7 linked regions of the Homo sapiens genome follow. The protein of the gene in region 1 interacts with the protein of each later gene in a pairwise test. Each region holds a gene or a part of one and is shown on either strand. Other genes may lie near its edges.

Region 1 (3,353 bases):
CGCCCTGCCTGCCCGGCCCCACCGAGGCCTGAGCACGTTCCCGGGTGCCGAGCACTGCCTCCGGGCTTCCCCCAAGACCACGCTTAGCGGTGGCTTCTTCGTTGCTGTAATTGAACGGGTCGAGATGCCGACGTGAGTGAGTGGGGGCATGCTTGGGAGGCGCAGGATGGTACTGGCACATCTAACATCTACATTTCTCTAGCTCAGCCTCACAGGCCAAAGCATCAGCACCAGAACGCACACCCAGCCCAGCCCCAAAGAGAAAGAAGAGAGCAAAAAGCTGCAGCCGGTGCTTGCACACCGCCTTGCACATAGCAGAGGCTCCGGGCTCACTCCTTCCTGGTGGGAAAGGAAGATGCCTGTCCTCTCCGTGGAAGACCCTGGGCCCTCACCGCAGGCAGCAGTTTGCGTTTTGAAAGGTTATTGGGTCCCTTCCTCGGGCTGTGTTCTTGCTGGTGAGCAAAAGTGTTGCCTGCAGAAATAAAATGCAGAACGTACTCTACGATAGATCACAGTTTTTTATTCTTAATGTCACAAGCAGGAGAAAAATCTCACATTCATACTAAAAATTCCAACTAGACTCAACAGGAATGAAGTCTCTATTTGTAATGGAAAGTCCCAGCCTCCCGCTGCCGTCCAGTGCGTGTACTGTACACATCCACACTCATTCTCACTCAGGGTTCCCGGACCGGCTGTCCTGCCTGCGGAACTGAGGTAAACTAGCTCAGGTACTGACACTAGGAGGGTCTACCTTACATAAGGTACAGGTAGAAGCTTGATTGCTAGGCCCAGGCCCACCCAGACCCTCCAATCCTAACAGGTATTTAGGCTTGAGGTTCACTCCCTCCTCAGCTGCACACGCAGCCAGGTATTAACGAGGATCAGAGCTGTTCTGAGGGGTGGGAAGGAGCAGCCCCGCCACCACTCACTCACCCTCAGTCACATCGGGGAGGGGGCACCAGTTACATTTACATCACATTATTTATAAAATAAGAATTACATTTCATATAACATGGCCAGAAGGAGCTCTAGTCCCCCAGGAAAGCTGCCGGGGACAGCATTTGAGCCTCTTCTTTGCACAGGCATAACTTAACTATACAGCTAATTCCTAGTTAATAGCATTTATACTTAACCACCTCAATGAACCAAGCTTGAAGGAATTTAAAAGGCAATTTAGCTTAAATACAAAAATAAATTTTTGTTAAAAAACGTTTAAATATTTTTTTCTTTTAATTTAGACACACGCATTCATACTTCTCCCAAAGAGGTTGGGCGTGGCAGCAAGGCGCTTGGGCCTGGGGTATGTGGTTTCAGAAGGACGGAAGGAAAGGATGGGCTGCAGAGGGCCCTGTTTGGGAAAAATAGGATTTTAAAAATATGGTTCATTAATTTAGGTTTTCTAACATCTACTTTGGGTGATGTAGCCTCCAGTGAGGTCAGTTAAGTGGGACAGAAACGGCAGAGGGAAGAGGTCTTTGCTTCCCCTGGGCCCATTCTCCCTGGCTGCCAGCCCTTGAAGTCAGAACACCATGGGAAAATTCAGGAGTCGGCACTTGTAGCCGTCAAGTGGTGCTACTTTCCACATTCAATTAGCGAGGCCCCAGAAAACTTGAAACAGGAAGTCCGGCACTACCAACATGCCGCCACTCATACAACTCAACTCTTCCTCCAAACTCGATTCAAAGAGCAATACACAGAGCATCAGACAAAGGAACACAGGACAAGGCTTGAAACATACAATCCTGGAGAGGCAGACGAGGGCCCAATGGGGCCAAAGGGTAGCTGGGCGAGGAGGCAGCTGAAGCAGCGGTGGGCATCCTGCCTGCTCCAAGAGCTTCTCCCTTCACCCCTGGCTCTGCCAGGCTAACAGTCTTGAGCCACCAAGCTCTGAGGGGCCAAACTGGCAGAGGGTTGGAGATGAAACATTGATTCAGGCTTGGCAGGAAGAAAACGGCAGGAGCAGCACCCACTGGGGTCTCCAAGGCAAAGCTAGATTCAAGGGCATTTAAAAACGAAGGAATCCTGCAAGGAACTGGTGAGGGACACAGCAGCAAGAAATGGGGAAACAGAGTCCCCAGAAGGGACCAGAGGAAGAGAACCACTTCTCACAGCTAAGCCAAGCAAGATAAAGCTTTACGGATAGCCCATTTCCCAAATCCCATCAGGTGCACACCACCGATCCAGGCGGGCTGGACCCTGCCCCCTCCAGCGACGACGGTCTCGGGGAAAGGTGGAAGGGGCGCCTGCCTAAGGGTGTGCTAAGCGGGAGTCAGGGCAGCGGACACTATGTACAGGTGTTTCCTTAGTTCTCCAGCCTCCCCAGTAGAACTGTTCAAGTAGAGGTCCCGGGCTTTGGCCCTCCGCATCCTGCTTCCCCTTCCCTGAGGCTTGTGCTTCCTCCAGAAGGGAAAGGGCCCCAGGGCTGCCACTGCCCCCTGGCGGCTGAAGCCAGAGATCCGGGGTAGGTTTGCTTTACGCAACTGGAAGGGTCCAAGGCTCTTCCTAGCAGGTGCCAAGGTCCAGATTTAGGGAAGGGGTGGGGGGAACAGGGACAGGGGACAAAGGCTACTTTTTGCGGGTGTGCTGCCTTCGGGCCTGCAGTCGCTGTCGAGCCCCTGGGGTCTTGGATCCCGCACCAATGGAAAATGAAAGGGCCGCCGATCCTGGAAAGATTCAACAAGACCTCATCAGGGCAGCTGCTACCTGAGACTCTGACTCTGGGTGCCCAAATCTCTGGAAGGCCAGGCCAGTAATAAAACACAGGGTGCCTCAATAGGGCTTTCCCCGCTGCATCAGAAACACTGTACGGGAGAAGCCTCCTGAAATGCAAACTCCCAGAGAGTCTCAGAGCGAGGCCCAAGAATCCATTTTTACCTGGCTTCCCATGGGAGGCAAACTTCCACCCCGGACAGCTCCTCTCTGATCTCTGCCATCCAACTCCCATCCCTGGGTTGTGCTGGACTCCTAACCCGAAATGTCTTTCCTGTGCTGAACCTGATCTTCACCGGGCCTCAGAGGACCAGGAACCTGCCACCCCGCCCAACCCCTCCTCAGACAGATGAGCAGGGCCACAGGGTGGCTTGCTGCTTACCGAAAGGTGCAACACCAACAAAGCCTTGGGCGGGTGCTGAGGATGCCCCAAAGGAGAGGCTGCTGCCTGATGTGCCCACTCCAGGCGCAGGGGTGTTCAGACCAAAGGTGGGGGTGGCGGTGCCTGGAATGAAGAGAACAGAGAGCTGGCCAGTGAGCAGAGGGCAGAGGCAAGCGAGGAGCCGGGCAGGAGCCTGTGCTCCGCAGGGCACTTCCCACGGGACCCTCAGCCCCACTTCTGCTTCTGGGGCACTCCTCCATCA
Region 2 (3,500 bases), on another chromosome or scaffold:
AGCACTTACTCCATGTCAAGCACTTTACAGCCATTCTCTCACCAAAGCCTCATGCCAATGCCCATCTCACAGATGCTCGAAGAGGTCGCGGGGCACTTTTAACCCTCACCCTGCCTTGCAGGCAGGGCGAGTTGCCCTAACAATGCCAGCCCCAAGAGGCAAAGTGTGGAGTGACAAGGGAAGGAAGTAGCTACTTAGAATCAAGCTGCTCTTCTGAGGGTCACAGGAGAAGTAGGGGAGAGCCAGGCATGTTCGGGGAGAGCCAGGCAGGTTCGGGAAATGCCACCACGAGACTGGCAGAGGCTTAGCTTTAGCATAACCAGCCATTGTGTGAGAGCTAAGGCTTAAGGCTGAGGGCTTTTTGCCTACAGCCTTAATTGGGGTGAAGAGCCCATGGCAAAGTCCAGGCCTCCCATCATAACTAATTCGGGAGGAGTGATTTGCAAGGTTCTCAAGCTGCAGCTAGACTGGCAGCTCTTTGAAGGGAGAGATGATGTCCTCTTAACTCTGGTCTCCCTGGGTCCAGCCAGCGTCTGACATACAGTAGGAGCTTAGGAAATATTTCTTAATGTCATTGCCTTAACTCCCCTAAGCACATACTTCACCCTGCACTGTGATGTCAGTATCATTATCCCTGTTTGACAATAACTCTTTAACGAGTACCCACTGTATGCCAGACAATGTGCTAGGGCCCTGCCCTCATGTTGCTCACAGCTTGGGAAGACGAGCTGAACACTCACGATCCAAGCCCTGGGAGGAGGTCATGGCTGCTGTGATATGCCACAGGGAGACCTTACCTAGTGTGGGAATTCAGGGAAGGGGCTCCCAGCTTCAGGACGTTGAGCTGAGAACTGAAGTACGGGAAGGAGTTATTTGGGTGAAGTAAGAGGGTTAAAGTATTCCAGGCAGAGAGAATGGCAGGAAAAAGTGTGGTCTCTTTGAGAAACAGAAAGAAAGCAAGTATCGCAAGAGGGGAGAGAGAAAAACCGAGAAGGGTGGGTAGCCTAGGATGAGGCTGGGACATGAGCAGGAGCCAGAGAATGTCACTGTTTCTGAGAATTTGAAACCTTATCTTGAGGGTATAGGGAGCACTCAAGGGGCGGGGCGGGAGGGAGGCAATCAGATTCACACTTTAAAAGATGTAAGCGGCCGGGCATGGTGGCTCACGCCTGTAATCCCAAGTTAAGGAGGGAAGGTTGCTTGAGGCCAGGAGTTCTAGATGAGCCTGGGCAACATGGCAACACCCATCTCTACAAGAAACTTAAAAAAAAAAAAAAAATTAACCAGGAGTGGTGGCGCATTCCTGTAGTTCCAGCTACTTAGGAGGCCAGATCACTTGGCAGGAGGATCGCTTGAGCCCAGGAGTTCAAAGTTACAGTGAGCTATGATCATACCACTGCACTCCAGCCTGGGCAACAGAGCAAGACTCTGTCTCAAAAAAAAAAAAAAAAAAAAAAAAAAGATGGAAGTGACTGCAGAATGGAGAATGACCTCAAGGGCGCCAAGTGGGGATCTCCGGAGTCAGGTCATCAAGGGGAAAGATGATGGAGGGCTGGAACAGGGCAGTGGCAAAGAGTATGAAGAGAATGCTGCCTGGCACATGGAAGTGCTCAATAAATATTTGTTGAATAAACAAATAAAGTCTATATTTCAGAGGTAAAATCCATAGGACCATTGCACTTAGGGGGCAGGGGAAGGGAGGATTAGGCTTACCTAGGTGGATGGGCATGACATTCAGTGAGGCAGCCATCACGGTGGGGGTGACAATGAATTCAGTGCAAACAAGTTGAGAACGACCAATACAGGTGTCAGGGAAGCTTGATGCAGGGATCTTAGGCTCAGGGATTCTGATTTCAATTTAGAAGCTGATGGTAGTTGAAGGCTTAGAAGTGTATCAACTTGTTCAGGAAGAGCATATAGAATGAAAACAGAAAATGCCTAAGCCAGAGAGCCCCGGGAACCTCAACGTGAATAACTGGGGGTGGGGGGATGTTGAGGAGGCAGTGGCAAAGAAGCCTGGGGATAGGAGGAAAATAGCAGAGTAAGTGTCAGGAGGGCAAAGGGAGAGAAGGCGGCTCACCCGGTCAACTAACTGACCCAAGGTCATGAAGCTGGGAAGGGAAGGAGATGGGGGTTTGAGCTCAGGTCTGCCTGACTCCAGTGCCTGAGTGCTTCCTGGAGGCTTCTGCCCTGACGGAGGTTGACTTGTGCAGGCTCATCCTGCTATAGAGAGAGAATGCTAGGACTCAAACCCACAATTTCTGGCTCTATGCTCTGTCAACCACAGCTCATGGTCTCTCATAAGCTAAGTTGGGATTGTTTTTATAGTATACAGAGTTGTTTCCCCATCTGTCATTTTGGATATATTATCTCTGCTGTGCCAAAAACTACACTTTTCTTTTTTTATTTTTTTATTACTTATTTATTTTTTATTATACTTTAAGTTCTGGGGTACATGTGCAGAATGTGCAGGTTTGTTACATAGGTATACACGTGCCATGGTGGTTTGCTGCACCCATCAACCTGTCATCTACATTAGGTATTTCTCCTAATACTATCCCTCTCCTCCCCTCGTCTTGAGGCTCACCTGACCTGGAACACGTCTCAAAATTTTAAGGTGCCACTCTCTGAATCCAGACTTATAGTCCAAATGTAGCCCTCCATGATGAGACACGGTTTTTGCAGGGAGGTAGCATGATAAAGAGGACCTCAGAGAGGAAGACTGGGCTACCAGTGTGAGCTCTGCCACAGGGAACCATGTCTGAACTCCACAGCCTCAACCTGGAGTGACATGGGACTAGGAAGGCTGACTGGGCAGGGTCATCTGGACATTAGGGAGACAGGGATTACAGAGAGCCTCCCCCAGCACCTGATACACAAAGCACATGCTCTGTCAGTACTGCTTTCGTCCTTAACTCTTTCTTTTTAAAATATTTACATAATTTTAGTGTTATAGTAGGTACCACGAATAAGAACAGCTGACATGTACCGTGCACCCACATGCATTCAAGGCACTGTTCTAAACACCTGACATGAATTATCTTATTTACAACAATCTTGGGAGGTAGATGATGCTATTGACCCCATTTTGATTTTTTTTTTTTTTTTTCTGAGACCAGAGTGTCGCTCTGTCGCCCAGGCTGGAGTGCAGTGGTGTGATGTCAGCTCACTGCAAACTCCACCTCCTGAGTTCAAACGATTCTCATGCCTCAGCCTCCTGAGTAGCTGGGATTACAGGCATGCCACCACACCCGGCTAATTTTTGTATTTTTAGAAGAGACGGGGTTTCACCATGTTGGCCAGGATGGTCTGGAAGTCCTGACCTCAAGTGATCCACCCGCCTTGGCCTCCCAAAGTGCTGGGATTACAGGCATAGTCACCACGCCCAGCTGATTGACTCCATTTTGAAGGGGAGAAACTGAGGCGCAGTGGGTAAAGTCCCTTGCCCATGGTCCTCTGGCTAGCACAGTGGAGCTGAGATATGAGGACTGGCCTTCCTG
Region 3 (3,500 bases), on another chromosome or scaffold:
TTGTTTAAAAGAAACGGAAAAAAAACACTAAGTCCATGAAAAAGAGGTTGACTACTCCCATCTCAACTTTCCATCTACATCCTCCAGCTCATCTACCATACTGCCTCAAAAGACTTTCCTCCACCTTCAAGACTGTTCCTGTCGTTCCTTTCAACCAGATCTCATTTACCAGCATAGAAACAGTGGGGACAGTCTCCGCTTCCGGAGGTCGCTACTGCTGCCTCAGTGGCCCCGGAGCGGGGGCGCCCAGGGGTCCTTCGCCCCCGGCCACGGCCCCCACAACGGGGCTTCGCCGCCACCTGTGTCCGAGCTGGACCGTGCAGGCGCCAGGCTCCTCTCCGAAAGGCGCACGAGACAGCTTTCTTCTCCTGGTTCCACAATGGCCTCCTGGCATAGGGCATCGGGGTTATCTCCTTCATGCAGAGTGACATGGATCACGAAGCAGCATATGGCTTCTTCCTGCTGGGCGGCCTGTGTGCGGTGTGGGGCAGCGCCTGCGGGGCCTGGCAGCGCTGCGGGGGCCCATGCAGCTGACGCTAGGGGGCGCAGCTGCGGGCGCTGTACTCGCCACCAGCCCGCTCTGGGTGTGCGCCGCCGTGGGCTTCTACACCGGGCAGCTGGAGCTGGACGTGAAGCTGGTGCTCGAGGGCGACGGGGCGGCCTCCGCGGAAGGCCCTGATGAGGCAGGCTGGCCGCCACCCGAGTGAGCGACATGGCCGCCGGGCCTGGCAGGCGCGGGATGACGGCGCCCGAGGACTGGGACATTAAAACCTGACCTCCCCTCCTCCAAAAAAAAAAAAAAGAAAGAAATAGTGGGGACAAACACTACGTGATTTGCCTGAAACCATTATGTGGAAAGGATGAAATTAGTAAGACACAGAAGTAGAGCACTTTTTCGTTTCAATATCCATGGCCAATAAGGCAAAAAAATTGTTCCAAAATTTCTATTTAATCAACAGCTACAAAAGTAGCATAGCAAGAAAAGCTGGGCCCTTTAAAGAGTCATTCTTCATAGGACTCTTCACCATGTCCCATCCTGCCAAATCCAGCTCTTAGAGTTCCTCTCATTCACTTCCGGGAACAGTGAAGGACAAACGGCGGGGTTTCAGAAAGTCTGAATTGTGAACAGCAGCAGGTGTTATAGAATCAAAGCAGGATGTAACAGAAATTATTCCAATTCCAAAAGCATAAATTTAAAGAATATGTTTCAGTGGCAGTTCTGGTGGGTGTTGCAGGAAGTACAGGGAACACAATCTATCAATTTTTTTTAAGTATGATGTTTATTAGCAGTGATTCAATCTGCAGTCTCAAACTTTTACAAATGCCTGAATTAAAAAAAGGTCACCAGGACACTTTTCAAGAGTAGGTTTGAAGAATTAGGAGAGTTTTAAAATTATAACTATTTAATTGTAATTGTATCCCTTTATATAATTATAGACATTTTGTTCGTCAAAGCACACAAAATGCTAACAGAAGAAGAAATAAACATATTTCCAAAAGAAAATCAGAAAAAGCTGAGACTGAATGACAAGTGGCTAATGGCTTTTGTGAGGTGTAAGTAATAAAAATAAGGAGGAAAAAGTTGGGCAGGACCAAAGAGGGGTACTAAAAGAGGCAAAGTCATATATTCTACAACTTTATTAAATTCCTATATTTTCTCCCTCCTCCTCCCCCCAATCAAATCTACCAAGCACTGTTAGCAGCTAGCAGTAGTTCTCAATCATGGCTGCACATTAAAATAATCTGGGGAGCTTTCTTTTTAATTTTTTTCTTTTGAGACAGGGTCTCTCTCTGTTGCCTAGGCTGGGGTACAGCGGCACAATCACGACTCACTGCAGCCTCAACCTCCTGCACTCAAGTGATCCTCCCACCTCAGCCTCCCAAATAGCTGGGACTACAGGTGTGCACCACCGTACAGGGCTAATTTTTAAATTTTTTTTCATAGAGATAGGGTCTTACCATGTTGCCCAGGCTGGTCTCAAACTCCTGCACTCAAACAATCCTCCTGTCTCAGCCTCCCAATGTGCTGGGATTACAGGCATAAGCCACCATGCCTGGCCACCTGGAGAACCTTTAAAATCCTCACACCCAGACCATATCCAGGACAACTGAAATCAGGCTGAGGTTGAGACCCAGGCATCAGTATTATTTCAAAGTTCCCTGGCTGAGCAATTCTGATGTGTTGCCAAGACTGAAAGCTACAGACAACAAACTGACATAATTAAGCAACTCACTGCAACAAGAGAAAAAGAAGAATGGTAGTTGGCGCCATGTCTGGAATACTTTGGTAAATGTAAGGACTCCTGAACACAAAAGCACAGAATTCTGATCCTAAGCAACAAATAAAGCAAGCTAAGCTACAGGCACAATAAGCTGAGATGGGCTAAAATGTTTGTCTTTGATGGGAAGACCCTCCACATTTCTAGAAATGATCTATTTTATTTAGGAACAATTTTACAAAAGATGAAGGGTTGGACTTTCCCCAGAAGAATCCTTTGTTCCTAGACCCAAACTCATAGGTAAAAACAAGCATTATATTACTGATAACAAAGATGATGAGAGTAATAAGTGCAAAGTCCCTCAAGTAATTCCGTCTATGACCTAAAAACCATAGATGGCTCTAGAGATTCCGTTTTAAATATACATCTAGACGAAGAACATGGTAGATGTATATGGACGGATATGAAAATAACTCATTTCTATTCATTGTTTTGCAAGATTGCTTTTTCATTAAAGATAAAAAAATTTTAAATCATATGTATTAATATATGCACTCATATGCAGAGAAAAAGACTTGAGGATATACACCAAGTTCCCTTGGGAATAGGAACAGGAAGGGAGAACTTTCATTTTTACCTTTTACATACATATCTGTATTGCTTTAATTGTATTCTTTGTTATAAAATGTTTATTTCCAAGTAAAAATTATTTAATAAAAGGGAAAAAGTATGCTGCTTCTTTTGTCCTCCTCACACTTAACCAATCTCCAATGGATCATCTCAAACAGCAAAGAGGAGTCTCTTTCACTAAACAGAACCTTCAAGTCATAATAATGTGCATCACAGCCCTCTCTTTTAAAACCTACTCTTTAATAACTTGCTTGAATACATTCATCTATAGAAGTAGTAGATGTCCAGTGAGATTGTCAGCTACATGTATGTCTGAAGGAAGAGGTCAGCAGCATTCTGCCTGGGGCAATCTTACACTACAACTTTTGAAAATTTCAAAAGATTTGATTGTATTCTCATACTTACCTTTTTTATTGGTTGTGAAATACTTGGAGTCAGTCATGACTTTGGATCTTTAATGTGCACCTATAGCAAGAGAAAAGAATTCCTTCATTCAGGTTATAGATATCCAACAAGGCATCCAATTAATTTTAAGAACATCCAATTAATTTTAGGAACACTTATATTTAAGAATTTCTAAAAATGAGTATCATCTTCCTTTATCACCACCGTTGATGGTTCAAGAAAAACTAAGAATGTAACTCCTCAAGC
Region 4 (3,500 bases), on another chromosome or scaffold:
TACCAGAAACCCTGAAGCTCCTACAACTTTCAAGTCCAACTCCTTTTCCAGGGTAACCATTATCCTGACTTATAACACCATATATTAGTTTTGCCCATTTAAAAAATTATAAATAAAATGAACAACACAATATGTATTCTTCAATATCTAGCTTCTTTTGCTCAACATTATGTTTGTGAGATTCATCCATATTGTTGTATATAGTTCATTTTTGGTCAATCACACTCAGAAATAAATTAAGTATTCTAGGCCAGGCACGGTGGCTTACGCCTGTAATCCTAGCACTTTGGGAGGCCGAGGCAGGTGGATCACGAGGTCAGGAGATCGAGACCATCCTGGCTAACACGGTGAAACCCCATCTCTACTAAAAATACAAAAAATTAGCCGGGCGTGGTGGCGGGTGCCTGTAGTCCCAGCTACTAGGGAGGCTGAGGCAGGAGAATGGTGTGAACCCGGGAGGCGGAGCTGGCAGTGAGCTGAGATCAAGCCACTGCACTCCAGCCTGGGCGACAGAGCGAGACTCCATCTCAAAAAAAAAAAAAAAAAAATTAAGTATTCTAAACCAAGTTTAGGAGCACAACCTTGAGGACCTGTAGTTACAGTTCATTAGTTTCATCTTAGACCCATTTCTATAGAAAAGGGACACAACTAATGTCCATTGAGTATCTACTATGAAAAAAGTATATATGCTGTTTCATTTAAAACCCTTAATAACTGCATGAAGTATATATAACTATTTCCATTTTATAAGTAATAAAACAGATTAAGCAAGTTATCTCTGTACCCACAGCTACAAATGAAAGATCCAGAATTTGAAATCACATCTGTCTAATTCCACCACCCCACAATGTTTCCCAGAGCCACAGAATTTCCTCTTACCTGTTTTTCGAAACCACTGAGCTTCATTAGCTCTTGACTCCAAACTTAAGGCTTCTTCACCAAAAGGCTGAGAAAGTTTCACAAAGGCTGCATCAAACAGGAAAATTTGATACTGATGGTCTTATTTTATACTCTAGCAAAATTGTTTAATCCTGCTTTAAGAACAGTCTCACAGGAGTTTGAATTTAGAAAGTTCTTTTTTGTGTATGTGTGTAGGGGTGCATACCAAAAGTAATTAAAATGACAGAAAGCATTACCAAGTTCCAAGAAGTTGTTAACTCAAACTCTGGGGAACAAACATGTCTTTGGAGAGATTTATAATTTTAATTAGTGCAATCATTCACCACCTGAGGTAGAAAGATATGATTTACATGTGAGGAAATAAAAAATAGAAACAATCGTTTAAAAGACTGAACTGGAGATTGAAAATTAGAAGGGTATCAATATGCTGGCATAATATTTACTGAGCCAGCAAGCTCAGGACAGAACCAGAATGTGCTATCACTATCAGAAGGCATTCTCTTTCTGAGAAATAAGAATGCCAACCAGCAAAGTTTTTCTCTTTTGAAAAGAAGTGGTCTGGTTTCTAAACCACTTTGCTATGTTTAACACCCTGCTGACAGGTATTTGAGGTATAAAATTGAACTACTGCACTGAGCAGGATAGAATTTCTAAGATATGAACTTTTTGGTGTGTTTTGGACATAAGGAAAGAGGTACATGGACAGTAAAAATGGGAGATCTGTTAAAAGGGATGCCATGTAAAAAAGCATGTAGTTAGAAAAAAAATGTGATACAACTAGGAGATTAGCTTGAATAAAGTGGACAGGGAAAAATTATTAGTAGATAAGGGAGATGGCACAGACTTGGGTGGACAGCTTCAAAATAAGAGAATATGCAACCTGAATTTGATTCAGAGGGTATGAAAAAAACAGCAGGGTTCAGAGTATTTTTATTTGTCTTGATCTTTTTTCACCTGTTCAATTCTTAGGTTAGGATCAAGTGGCTACTAGAAAAGAAAGGTAGAGGGACAGGGAGGGAGAGAAGGGAGGAAGGGAGAGAAGGAAAGGAAAGGAGGGAGGGAAGGGGGAAGGAGAGAAAGAAGGAAGGAAGGAAGGAAGAGAGGGAGGGAGGGAGGGAGGGACGGGAGGGAGGGAGGGAAGGAAATGTCCTTAAAACAAATAGGAATTAAAACAGAACTGAAATCACATTTGGAGATGAATGCTAATGATGACACACTTTTCTCTGCTTGTGAATGAAGAAACCAAAATAGATTCCTGTGGCAAAGATTAATAAGGAGCATGAAGCTTAACTCAAACATAAGGTTAAAGTTGCTGTGCTTAGTGTACTTGGAGAATTCAACAGAGAATAGAGGCAAGATGAAGGACTGAATATAACCAGGGAGATATTTACCTCTATTCAGGCAAGTCAAAAGTCGATCCATTTCTTTCTTCCTAAAAATAAAGAAAAGGATATTTTCCAACTGCTCCAAATCTTTACTATAAAACATAACTAAAAAGGGACACTATTTGTGCCTGAGAATTGAACTAAGAAAATGCAAAATTGTGAAGTTTTTTGCTCAGGACTCCAATCTACCATTTCAACAATCTTCTTCCCCACTGTAGGATACAGTTACTCATTCCCAGTGCCCTCATATTTTTTCTCTCTTCTACTTCTTCATAAACTCTCAGCAAAGGATTTCAATGACAAGGTTTTATATTGTAGGGTCATAACACTTGAGAGCAGCTGGTGATCTCTGTGATTTATAAGCTTTTTTGAAGGGGGGAACTAGAACCCTTATTTCAAATAAAGTTGTATAAAAGTCTAATATACAAGAAAAGATAAAAGATAAAAGTTGAGCTGCTGTGGTTGAACGAGGAGTGGGTGGAGGCTTGGAGTTTCACCTTCCTGGAAGTCCCTGATGCAGTGCCACAAAATTTCCACGGTTCTAAGGAATGCAGCTTAAAAAATAACTTATCTTGTACAGACACATCATTTTACAGATGAAGAAAAGAGTAGACCCAGGTTTCCTGACCCCTCTGTCAAGCTTCTTTAAGCATATAAAATTTAAAAGAGAACTTCCGGTTTCTAGTTATGCATGTAAGGAGCTTGGAAGTTGCCAGTTTCTCCTAACAAGTAAAACGCTGAACACACTGAAAAATTAGTAACTCTTCTTGGACCTATAAGAGACGAGAGGAAAAAGGGAAAACCACTGCCACAAAAATTGGAGAGAAGGGCGAAGATAGGGAGTCATAGCTTACTAGAGCAGAGATTCAAAAGTGGAAACTACCATGGGAACCAATGCTGGAGTAGGAAAACCTGAAGCGTAACTGACAAACCACTGGAGGCTCAGTGTGGACAAGTCTGAATTAAAAGACTCAGGAGGACCCAGTCATAAGGAGGCCTCCACAGTTTTGTGAGTTTTGCCTCCAGGAGCTTGGTTAGCTACTCAGTGAATATTGGAGCAAAATCTCTTTATGCATCTTGCAGGGGGCAGAGGAAACAAAACACTTTAAAACATGCCAGAGCACCCTGTTCTTAACAAGTCTTGCCCTCAAGAGAAACTGCTTAACCACAGCCTGACCTTCTGGGGTATATCAGAGCCTAACTGATCTCGGAGAA
Region 5 (3,500 bases), on another chromosome or scaffold:
GGGAACCCTAGGAGCCCAAACAGGCCTGGCCAAGGTAAGTGTGACAAGTGATGGGCTGAAAAGGGCCTGTGGCAGCTCATCTTGGGGTAGCCCTAGTGGGGTCTAATAACAGTGGTTATCTTTTGTATAGCACACACAACACGAAACCTTCACATCCTCACAACATCCTGATGTAATATTCTTATTATTCCCATTTTACATGTAAATAAACCGAGGCTCAGAGAAGATCACACACGACTTCTGGTAAGAGCTGTTAAGTGGCATAGCCAGAATTTAAACCCTGGTCTATCTGATTCTAAAGCTTTTAAACTACAGCAAAATGCCTCTTTCTCAGAAGCAGGTCTAAAACATGAATCAACAATCAGCAGAAAGCCTGTATTACACATTTATTACACAAATGATTGCCTGCTAAGTGAGGTGTTACTATATGGATACAGCTGACATTTTAATATATTGGAAACAGTTTAAAATATTTTACATGTAAATATGGAAATTTCTCATGTTCTTGGATCCCTTGACAGGATCTTGTAGCAACAGACTTCCCTTGGAAATCTCCTTCTCTATCGCACACTTCAATAAGCCCACATTAGCTTGCTGCTATGGGTATGACACAGCATACAACAGTCTATCTGAAGGGGTTTGGCTCTTACTGACCTGTCCTTCATTATTCGTTAATCACCCTACGGATGTTAAGGGTTAGTCTATTTTGGTAGTGGAGACACTGGAAGAAAGAAAATGGAGTATATCATGTATCAGGCTATATAGTCTTGGGCAAGCCACTTCATCTCTCTGTGCCTCTCTTTCTCATGAATGGTATGTTTTTCATGAATAGTCTAATACAAGTTGTAAGACACCAAGCCTAAGAGTGAAGGCTCAGCTCCCACATTCCCCAGCTCACCTTGGTGTACAATGTGTCTGCCAGGTCCAACTTTTTAAGGTCATAGAATATATTAGCCAGGTGGAAGTAGCCTCCTGAAGTCCTAATGTCCTCTGTTCCAAATGCACAACTGGCAAAATAAATCTATAGCAGAAGGAAGAAGGAGAGTGCTTGAGTTCCTTTTGCAAATCATATATCTGATAAAGGACTTGTATCTAGAATACATACAAAAAACTGTTACAACATTCCAATTTAAAAATGGGCAAAAGATCTGAATTGACATTTCTCCAAAAAGATATTCAGATGAATAATAAGCACATGTATAGATACTAACATAGTAATTAGGTAAATGCAAAACAAAGCTATAATGAAATATCACTGCATCTAGGATGGCTAGAATCAAATACAGAAAATAAAAAGTGTTGGGAAGGATATGGAGAAAATGAAACCCTCACACATTGCCAATGGGAATGTAAAAGGGTGCAGCCTCTGTGGAAACAGTTTGGTAGTTCCTTAAAAAGTTAAACATAGAGTTACTACATGACCCAGAAATTCCTCTTCTAAGTACCTACCCACAAAGACTTGTACGTAAATGTTTATATCAGCATTATTTAAAATACACAAAACATAGAAACAACCAAAATGTCCATCAACTGATAAATGGATAGACAAATTGTAGTATATCCAGGCAATGGAATGCTAATCAGCAATAAGAGGAATGAACTGTTGATACATGCAACAACATGGATGAATCTCAAAATAATCACCCTAGGTGAAAGAGGTCAGATGCAAAGGACCACACATGATGCTGTCTGTATGAACTGTCCTGAGAAGGCAAATTTGTAGAAACAGGAAGTGGTTGCTGGGGCTGGAACAGGAATGGGAAATGACTGCGCATGGATACAAGGGATCTCTTTGGGGTAATGGAAATGTTCTGAAACTTGATTGTGCTAATGGTTGCGCTACTCTGTAAATTTGCTAAAAATAATTTAATTGTACACGTAAAATGGGTGAATTTTATGGTATATATCAATAAAGCTCTGTGTGTGTGTGTGTGTGTGTGTGTGTGTGTGTGTGTGTTTAAAAAGCTAGGCTAAGGAATCTGAGCTTGTGCTAATTTTTTTTTTTTTTAAAGACAGAGTCTCCCTCTGTCGCCCAGGCTGGAGTGCAGTGGTGCGATCTTGGCTCACTGCAACCTCGCCTCCCGGGTTCAAGTGATTCTTTTGCCTCAGCCTTCCGAGCGGCTGGCATGACAGGCACACACCACCACACCTGGCTAATTTTCATATTTTTTTTTTTGGAGACTGAGTCTCACTCTGTCGCCCAGGCTGGAGTGCAGTGGCGCAATCCTGGCTCACTGCAACCTCTGCCTCCCAGGTTCAAGCAATTCTCCTGCCTCAGCCTCCCAAGTAGCTGGAATTACAGGCACATGCCACCACACCCAGCTAATTTTGTATATTTAGACGGGGTTTCACCATGTTAGTCAGGCTGATCTAGAACTCCTGACCTCTGGTGATCCGCCCATCTCGGCCTCCCAGAGTGCTGGGATTACAGGCGTGAGCCACTGCGCCCAGCTAATTTTTGTATTTTTCATAGAGACGGGGTTTCACCATATTGGTCAGGCTGGTCTCGAACTCCTGACCTCATGATCTGCCTGCCTCAGCCTCCCAAAGTGCTGGGATTACAGGCGTGAGCCACCACACCTGGCCTACTAATTCTTAACTGTGTGGCCCAGCTCAGGACAGAATGTGCCTCTGCTTAATTTGTTGGAGGATGTAGAGTATAGAGAGGAAACACAAAGAATTGTATTAGTCAGGAGCCCAGGTGGAACTAGATGGCACCCTCAATAAGATTGCCTGAAGATAGTTTAGTGGAATTATTACTTGACATGTAGAAGGGTTAAGAAACCAACAAGGGCTAGGGAAAAGCCCTACGAGTAAAACCAACAAAGCCTAGTGAAACACCAGGGACTACCAACAGCAAGAAACTATTACCATCCCTACACCTGAAACAGCAAGGGGAGGAAACAAGGTTACCAGGGCCCAGCAAGAGCTAGCACTATGGAAGAAGGCTGCCTGACAGGAGCTGTGGCCACAGAGGAACACTGTTCCTGACAGATCAGGGGTGGGGCAGAGAGGCAGCAGAGAGAATCAGTACCCCAGCCTTTTTCTCCTCCTACTCTCCACTCCCCTACTATGCCTTCCACTCTCCAAACCCAACCAAGGCCAGAGAGCAATGGAGTCCATAGAGGTTGTGTAGTCCATAGAGGTCAGGCTCCCAGGGCATAGAGTAGGGCAGAGAATGGATATGGGTTAGTGGAATTTAAAGAATAACCAGCGTAAAATTTAATTTACGGGCATTGTACAGGCGGGCAACCAGAGGAAGGGCTGCTTGGTGCAGAGGCCAGAAGAGAGGCTGAAGAGAGAACCAACCTGCATGGAGACTGCAGTCTGACTCTACGCTAACTCAGATTTCACGCCCAGGAACTCTTTTCTCTGGTAATATTTTCCAGTACTGAAATCCTAATAGAAACCCCTTAAATTTTGAAAGAACAATTCAGTTATCATCCTCAACATCCCATCTAACTTTGTACAGAGTTTTATCATCGATAAGTGCTTTCTTA
Region 6 (3,500 bases), on another chromosome or scaffold:
ACGTTTTAAGCTTCTGAGATTTTCAGAATAGTAATTGAGCATTGACTTCAACTTAAAGGCCCCAGCTGCATTAGCCCATAACAAGAGAGTCAGCCTGTCATTTGAAGCTTTGAAGCCAGGCATTGACTTCTCTCTAGCTATGAAAGTCCTAGATGACATCTTCCTCCAATGGAAAGCTGTTTCTTCTACATTGAAAATCTGTTGGCTAGTGTAGCCACTTTCATTAATGATCTTAGCTTGATCTTCTGGATAACTTGCTGTAGCTTCTGCATCAGCACATGCTGCTTCACCTTGCACTTTTTTGAGACAGTGTCTCACTCTGTCACCCAGACTGGAGTGCAGTGGCACGATCTCGCCTCACTGCAGCCTCTGTCTCCCGGGTTCAAGTAATTATGGTGCCTCAGTCTCCTAAGTAGCTGGGATTATAGGTGTGTGCCACCACGCCCAGAACATTTATGTATTTTTATAGAGACAGTGTTTCGCCGTGTTGGCCAGGCTGGTCTCGAACTCCTGACCTCAAGTGATCCGCCCACCTCAGCCTCCCAAAGTGCTGGGATTATAGGCATGAGCCACCACACCCGGCTTCACTTTTTTTTTTGAGACGGAGTTTCTCTCTGTTGCCCAGGCTGGAATGCAGTGGCGCGACCTCAGCTCACTACAAGCTCGGCCTCCCGGGTTCACGCCATTCTCCTGCCTCAGCCTCCCGAGTAGCTGGGACCACAGGCGCCCGCTACCACGCCCGGCTAATTTTTTTTTGTATTTTTAGTAGAGATGGGATTTCACCATGTTAGCCAGGATGGTCTCGATCTCCTGACCTCGTGATCCGCCCATCTCAACCTTCCAAAGTGCTGGGATTACAAGGCGTGAGCCACTGTGCCCAACTTTTTTTTTTAAGATAGGGTTTTTGTCTGTCACCCAGGCTGGGGTGCAGTGGCAAGATAGCACACTGCAACCTCTAATTCCTGGGCTCAAGGGATCCCCCCACGTCAGCCTTCTAAGTAGCTGGGGACTACAGGTGTGTGCCACCACACTCAGCCAATTTTAAATTTTTGTGAGACAGTGTGTCACCATGTTGCCCAGGCTGGTCTTCAAGTCCTGTCCTCAAGTGATCCTTATTCCTCAGCCTCCAAAGCCACTGGGATTACAAGCATGAGTCACTGAGTTTGGCCTCCACATTGATGGCTTCTTTCCTTAAACCCTTTCTTTTTGAGACGGAGTCTCACTGTCGCCCAGGCTGGAGTGCAGTGCCATGATCTCAGCTCACTGCAACCTCTTCCTCCCAGATTCAAGCGATTCTCCTGCCTCAGCCTCCCAGGTAGCCAGGATAACAGGTGCCCGCCACCACATCTGGCTAATTTTTGTATTTTTAGTAGAGATGGGGTTTCACCATGTTGGCCAAGTTGGTCTCGAACTCCTGACCTCAGGTGATCCACCTGCCTCAGCCTCCCAAAGTCTTGGGATTACAGGCATAAGCCACTGCGCTCGGCTCCTTAAACCTTATGAACCAGTCTCGTTAGAGCCTGGCTCTGGATTAGGCTTTGGTTTAAGGCAGTATTGTGGCTGATTTGATCTTCTGTCAAAACCACTAAAAGTTTATCCATATTGGCAATAAGGCTGTTTTTTCTTTTCTTTTCTTTTTTTTTTTTTTGAGACAGAGGCTGGAGTGCAGTGGCCCTATCTTGGCTCACTGCAAGCTCCGCCTCCCGGGTTCATGCCATTCTCCTGCCTCAGCCTCCTGAGTAGCGCCCGGCCGGTTGTTTTTTTTAAACATTTGTGTGTTCACTGGACTAGTACTTTTCATTTCCTTCAAGATCTTTTCCTGGCCAGGTGCAGTGGCTCATGCCTGTAATCCTAGCACTTTGGGAGGCCCAGGCAGGCGGATCACCTGAGGTCAGGAGTTCAAGATCAGCCTGACTAACATGGAGAAACCCTGTCTCTACTAAAAATACAAAATTAGCCGGGTGTGGTGGCACATGCCTGCAATTCTAGCTATTTGGGAGGCTGAGGCAGAAGAATCGCTTGAACCCAGGAGGTGGAGGTTTCGGTGAGCTGAGATCGCACCATTACACTCCAGACTTGGAAACTCCTTCACAACAAAAAAAAAGAACTTTTCCTTTGCATTCACAGCTTTGCTAACTGGCGCAAGAGGCTTAGCTTTCACCATATCTTGGCTTTTTGACATGCCTTCCTCACTAAGCTTAATCATTTCTAGCTTTTGACTTAATGTGGAGACATGCAACTGCCCCTTTCACTTGAACAAATAGAGGCCATTGTAGGGTTATTAATTAGCCTCATTTCAATATTGTTGTATCTCAGGGAATAGGGTGGGAGAGAGACTGTGGAATGGCTTGTTGGTGGAGCAGTCAGATCATACACAGTATTTATCAGTTAAGTTCTCCATCTTATATGACCATGGCTCATGGCACCCCAAAACAGTTGCAATACTAGCATCAAATATCACTGATCACAGATCACCATAACAGATAAAACAAAAAACAAAAGTTTGAAATATTACGAGAATTACCAAAATGTGGCACAAAGTGAACACATGCTGCTGGAAAAATGGCACCAGTAGACTTGCTTAACATAGGATTGCCACAAACCTTCAATTTGTTTTTTTTTGTTTTTTTTTTTTGAGACGGAGTTTCACTCTGTCACCCAGGCTGGAGTGCAGTGGCACGATCTTGGCTCACTGCAACCTCCACCCTCCGGGTTCAAATGATTCTCCTTCGTCAGCCTCCTGAGTAGCTGGGACTACAGGCGCCTGCCACCACGCCCGGCTAACTTTTTGTATTTTTAGTAGAGATGGGGTTTTACCATCTTGGCCAGGCTGGTCTTGAACTCCTGACCTTGTGATCCACCCGCCTCGGCCTCCCAAAGTGCTGGGATTACAGGCGTGAGCCACTGCGCCCGGCCCAATTTGTTTTTTTTTTTTTAAAAAAAACACACATTGGCTGGGTATGCTGGCTGACGCCTATAATCCCAGCACTTTGGGAGGCTAAGGCAGGTGAAACTCTTGAGCTCAGCAGTTTGAGACCAGCCTGGGCAACATAGTGAGACCCTGTCTCAAGACAAAAACAATAACAACAATAAAAAAACACACAGTATCGGTGAATCACAGTAAAATGAGATATGCCTGTACTTTATATATTCATTTAATTCTCAGATTCTCATGTTTTAGTTGAGAAAACCAAAGGATGGAGAGGTTTCAGTAACTTGGGCAAATTCATAGCTAATACATGGAAGAGACGCTTACTCAGTATGATTCTAATCAAAATATGGGCTGTTTGTACATAAGCATTCCTGAAGTAGCTAAAGCAATCTCTTCCCCACCCATCTTTTCCTATAGAAATCTCACCTGTTTTTCTTTTCTTTTTTTTAATTTGATATGGAGTTTCGCTCTTGTTGCCCAGGCTGGAGTGCAGTGGCACAATCTCCGCTCACCGCAACCTCTGCCTCCCAGTTCAAACTATTCTCCTGCCTCAGCCTCCTGAGTAACT
Region 7 (3,500 bases), on another chromosome or scaffold:
AGAATAAAGCTGATACACCGTCTTCCAGCCTCATTTTCTTTATATGGATTCCATTTACTTCATTCTCCTGCTTCTAGGTTTCTGATGTGTTTTTACAGGACAAAATGTTACAATCCCTAGAAATTTATTCTTTCATTTTTATCACTCCCATTACAGACTGTTTCTCTGTCCTTGTGAAACTGGGAGTCCACAGGGAGGTGCCAATCCTGGATAAAAGCTCAGAATCACTGTAGAGAATCTTGATTCTGACCTCTAACTGTATATACACACCACCAACTCACCAACCAGGTTCCTGGGCACTTGCACTGAGTCCTCAGAAAACTCAAGGTAGCTTCGGGCCTGTCGGCAAGCCTCGGGAGTCTAAAGGAAGAACAGCAGGGAGTTGTTACTAAAACAGAAGACCAGCTGGATGTGGTGGCTCACGCCTGTAATCCCAGCACTTTGGGAGGCTGGAGGCAGGTGGATAAATTGAGCTCAAGAGTTCAAGACTAGCCTGGGCAATATGGTGAAACGCCATCTCTACTAAAAATACAAAAATCAAAATACAAAAATACTAAAATACTAAAAATACAAAATTGGTGGCTCACGTCTCTAATCCCAGCTACTCCGGAGGCTGAGGCAGGAGATTTCTTGAACCCAGGAGGCAGAGGTTGCAATAAGCTGAGATTGTGCCACTGCACTCTAGCCCGGGCAACAGAGTGAGTTAGACTCCATCTCATAAAAAAAAAAAATTAAACAAATAAATAACTTAAAAAAAAAAACAGAGGACCTTGGCCAGGCACAGCGGCTCACACCCATAATCTCAACAGTTTCGGAGGCTAAGAAGGGAGGATTGCTTGAGGCTAGGAGTTAACAACCAGCTTGGGCAACAGAGATCTGGTCTATTTTTTTGATTTTTTGGTCTCACTCTATTGACTATGTTGCCCAGGTTGGTTCAGTGGCACCATCATGGTGTACTGCAGCCTTGACTTTCCAGGCTCAAGTGATCCTCCTGCCTCCGCCTCCCAAGTAGCCAAGTAGCTGGGGCCACAGATGCATGCCACCACGCTCAGTTAACGTTTTTTGGTTTTTGGTTTTTTTGGGGGGTAAAGACAGGGTCTCTCTATGTTGTCCAGGTTGTTCTCCAACTCCCAGGCTCAAGTGATCCTCCCCTCTATCTTCCCATTTCAGCCTCCCAAGTACCTGCGACTACAGGTACGCACCACTACTTCCAGCTAATTTTTAAATTTTTGTAGAGATTGGGTCTCACTATGTTGCACAGGCTGGTCTCAAACTCCTAGGCTCAAGTGATCCTCTCACTTTGACCTCCGAAGGTGCTGGGATTACAGGTGTGAGCCACTGTGCCCAGTTTGAGGCTTATTTTCTACTTCGGCCTCTCTTCCCTCTATCCCCTAAGAGACCCAGAAGAAAGACATCCTTTGCTGACCTCCCCATAGATGCGGAAAGTGCAGGTCTCTTCACCCAACTCAATGGCGGTCACCCCAGGTACTTTTCGGGCCTGCTGGATGTTGGCACCGTGAGTCCCAATTGCCAGTCCCATCAGGTCCTCTCGCACTGTGAACTCCTCTTGGAAGGCTGCTGCCAACTGCTTGCTTGTCTGAAAGGAAAAGTCACTGTAGGAATCATGGTGGTAGAATCTCACAGTCCCAGGCACACGACCCTTTGCATAACTTAAATAAGGAAAACTGTGTGATATTAATAGAAAGCTAGAACCACTCTGGAGTCCGCGGACCACGAGGACCTGTGTGGAAAGGTCAGGAACTTTTTGTTTTTTCTTTGAGATGGCGTCTCGCTCTGTCGCCCAGGCTGGAGTGCAGTGGCGCGATCTCAGCTCACTGCAACCTCCGCCTCTCGACTTCAAGTGATTCTCATGCCTCGGCCTCCTGAGTAGCTACGACTACAGGTGTCCACCACCATGCCTGGCTAATTTCTGTATTTTTAGTAGAGACAAGGTTTCACCATGTTGGCCAGGCTGGTCTCAAACTCCTGACCTCAGGTGATCCGCCCGCCTCAGCCTCCCAAAGTGCTGGGATTACCGGCATAAGCCACCACGCCCGGCCAAGGTCAGGAACTTTTAATTCCACTCCTTCCAAATACCAGTGGTTTGTGGGGGAGGAAAGGTAAAGAGGGCAGAGTTTGGACTGGGACACACCGAAGTTCTGGATTTGGCCCTAACAGTATCTGTCCCTAAGAGTATCTATCTGTGTGATCTTAAACAAAACATACTCTGCCTCTTGTGTCATCTGCTAAGTGATTATATCCAACTTATCTTATTCTCAAGACTAGCAAGAGGATTAGACAAGGCTGGTGTGAAAGTACTTCTCACAAGGTACATGCAAGTGTAAGGAACTCTTACCTTAATCAAACAAATATCAACTCATCCCCAAATAAAACTCAACAACTTAAGTAAAAAGTGAGGGGTAGGCTGTGCGCGGTGGCTCACGCCTGTAATTCCAGCACTGTGGGAGGCTGAGGCAGGTGGATCACAAGGTCAGGAGATCAAGACCATCCTGCCAACATAGTGAAACCCCATCTCTATTAAAAATACAAAAATTAGCTGGCCTTGGTGGGGTGTGCCTATAATCCCAGCTGCTTGGGAGGCTGAGGCAGGAGAATTGCTTGAACCAGGGAGTTGGAGGTTACAGTGAGCCGAGGTCATGCCACTGCACTCCAGCCTGGTGACAGAGCAAAACTCTGTCTCAAAAAAAAGTGAGGGGTTAAGAAAAACAGAAAACATGCCTCTAGAACACCAGGCTTTCACTTCATTTCTCAATCAGTCCTTAGAGGAACCCCTGGGTTCAGGGGCAGGAAGACAGGAAAGGTTTTAGAGGAGTGAATCCCATGTTGTAAGCACCAAATAGAAACAATACCTGAAAGGAGACATTCCTAGATTGAAATACACTACTTCCCACTTCCAAGTTGGATAGGACTGAATTATACCAAGGATTTATACCAGGCAAGAAGAGAAAGTTGGAAAAATAAACTAAGTTGAGTGTTCAAAATCACTACATTAGGAGGGGAGGGGAAGAGATCTACAATGACCTATAAGCGTCTTCTAGATAAGCTTGCAGAACAGCTGGGTTTTCTTTTTTTTTTTTCTTTTTTTTGAGATGGGGTCTGTCACCCAGGCTAGAGTGCAGTGGCATGATCTCTGCTCACTGCAACTTCTGCCTCCCTTTTTTTGTATTTTTAGTAGAGAAGGGGTTTCACCATGCTGGCCAGACTGGTCTCAAACTCCTAACCTCAGGCAATCCACCTGCCTCGGCTTCCCAAAGTGCTGGGATTGCAGGCGTGAGCCGCTGCACCCGGCCCCTTTCCGGTTTTTAGAGGCTTCACTACTAGGCATGACTGATTAAATCACTGATCCTCAGTGATTGCCTTAACCTTTGGCCCCATTCCCCTCCCAGGAAGTTGGTGGGGGTGAGGCTGAAAGTTCCAACCCTCTAATCATGAAGCCACCTAGAGGGGCTAGCCATGAATCAACTCATCAGCACACAAAA

The links.
Region 2: the proteins of POM121 (region 1) and MORN5 interact in binary tests that used the Homo sapiens proteins (3 or more experiments, as listed by UniProt).
Region 3: the proteins of POM121 (region 1) and AP2B1 interact in binary tests that used the Homo sapiens proteins (3 or more experiments, as listed by UniProt).
Region 4: the proteins of POM121 (region 1) and TEX11 interact in binary tests that used the Homo sapiens proteins (3 or more experiments, as listed by UniProt).
Region 5: the proteins of POM121 (region 1) and ZMYND12 interact in binary tests that used the Homo sapiens proteins (3 or more experiments, as listed by UniProt).
Region 6: the proteins of POM121 (region 1) and KPNA6 interact in binary tests that used the Homo sapiens proteins (3 or more experiments, as listed by UniProt).
Region 7: the proteins of POM121 (region 1) and FXR2 interact in binary tests that used the Homo sapiens proteins (3 or more experiments, as listed by UniProt).

What each region holds. Positions count from the first base shown.
Region 1 is NC_000007.14:72,945,447-72,948,799, reverse strand, and holds the end of POM121 (nuclear envelope pore membrane protein POM 121), read right to left. Parts: intron 3,215-3,353; coding exon 3,092-3,214; intron 2,664-3,091; coding exon 2,566-2,663; 3' UTR 501-2,565; downstream 1-500. UniProt on the Homo sapiens protein: Essential component of the nuclear pore complex (NPC). The repeat-containing domain may be involved in anchoring components of the pore complex to the pore membrane. When overexpressed in cells induces the formation of cytoplasmic annulate lamellae (AL).
Region 2 is NC_000009.12:122,169,908-122,173,407, reverse strand, and holds part of MORN5 (MORN repeat-containing protein 5), read right to left. Parts: intron 1-3,500.
Region 3 is NC_000017.11:35,593,822-35,597,321, reverse strand, and holds part of AP2B1 (AP-2 complex subunit beta), read right to left. Parts: intron 3,315-3,500; 5' UTR 3,292-3,314; coding exon 3,255-3,291; intron 790-3,254; exon of another isoform or gene 192-789; intron 1-191. UniProt on the Homo sapiens protein: Component of the adaptor protein complex 2 (AP-2). Adaptor protein complexes function in protein transport via transport vesicles in different membrane traffic pathways.
Region 4 is NC_000023.11:70,608,212-70,611,711, forward strand, and holds part of TEX11 (testis-expressed protein 11), read right to left. Parts: intron 2,333-3,500; coding exon 2,292-2,332; intron 967-2,291; coding exon 880-966; intron 1-879. UniProt on the Homo sapiens protein: Regulator of crossing-over during meiosis. Involved in initiation and/or maintenance of chromosome synapsis and formation of crossovers.
Region 5 is NC_000001.11:42,435,523-42,439,022, forward strand, and holds part of ZMYND12 (zinc finger MYND domain-containing protein 12), read right to left. Parts: intron 1,022-3,500; coding exon 899-1,021; intron 1-898. UniProt on the Homo sapiens protein: Required for sperm flagellum function and male fertility.
Region 6 is NC_000001.11:32,114,556-32,118,055, forward strand, and holds part of KPNA6 (importin subunit alpha-7), read left to right. Parts: intron 1-3,500. UniProt on the Homo sapiens protein: Functions in nuclear protein import as an adapter protein for nuclear receptor KPNB1. Binds specifically and directly to substrates containing either a simple or bipartite NLS motif.
Region 7 is NC_000017.11:7,594,398-7,597,897, forward strand, and holds part of FXR2 (RNA-binding protein FXR2), read right to left. Parts: intron 1,598-3,500; coding exon 1,427-1,597; intron 361-1,426; coding exon 282-360; intron 1-281. UniProt on the Homo sapiens protein: mRNA-binding protein that acts as a regulator of mRNAs translation and/or stability, and which is required for adult hippocampal neurogenesis. Specifically binds to AU-rich elements (AREs) in the 3'-UTR of target mRNAs.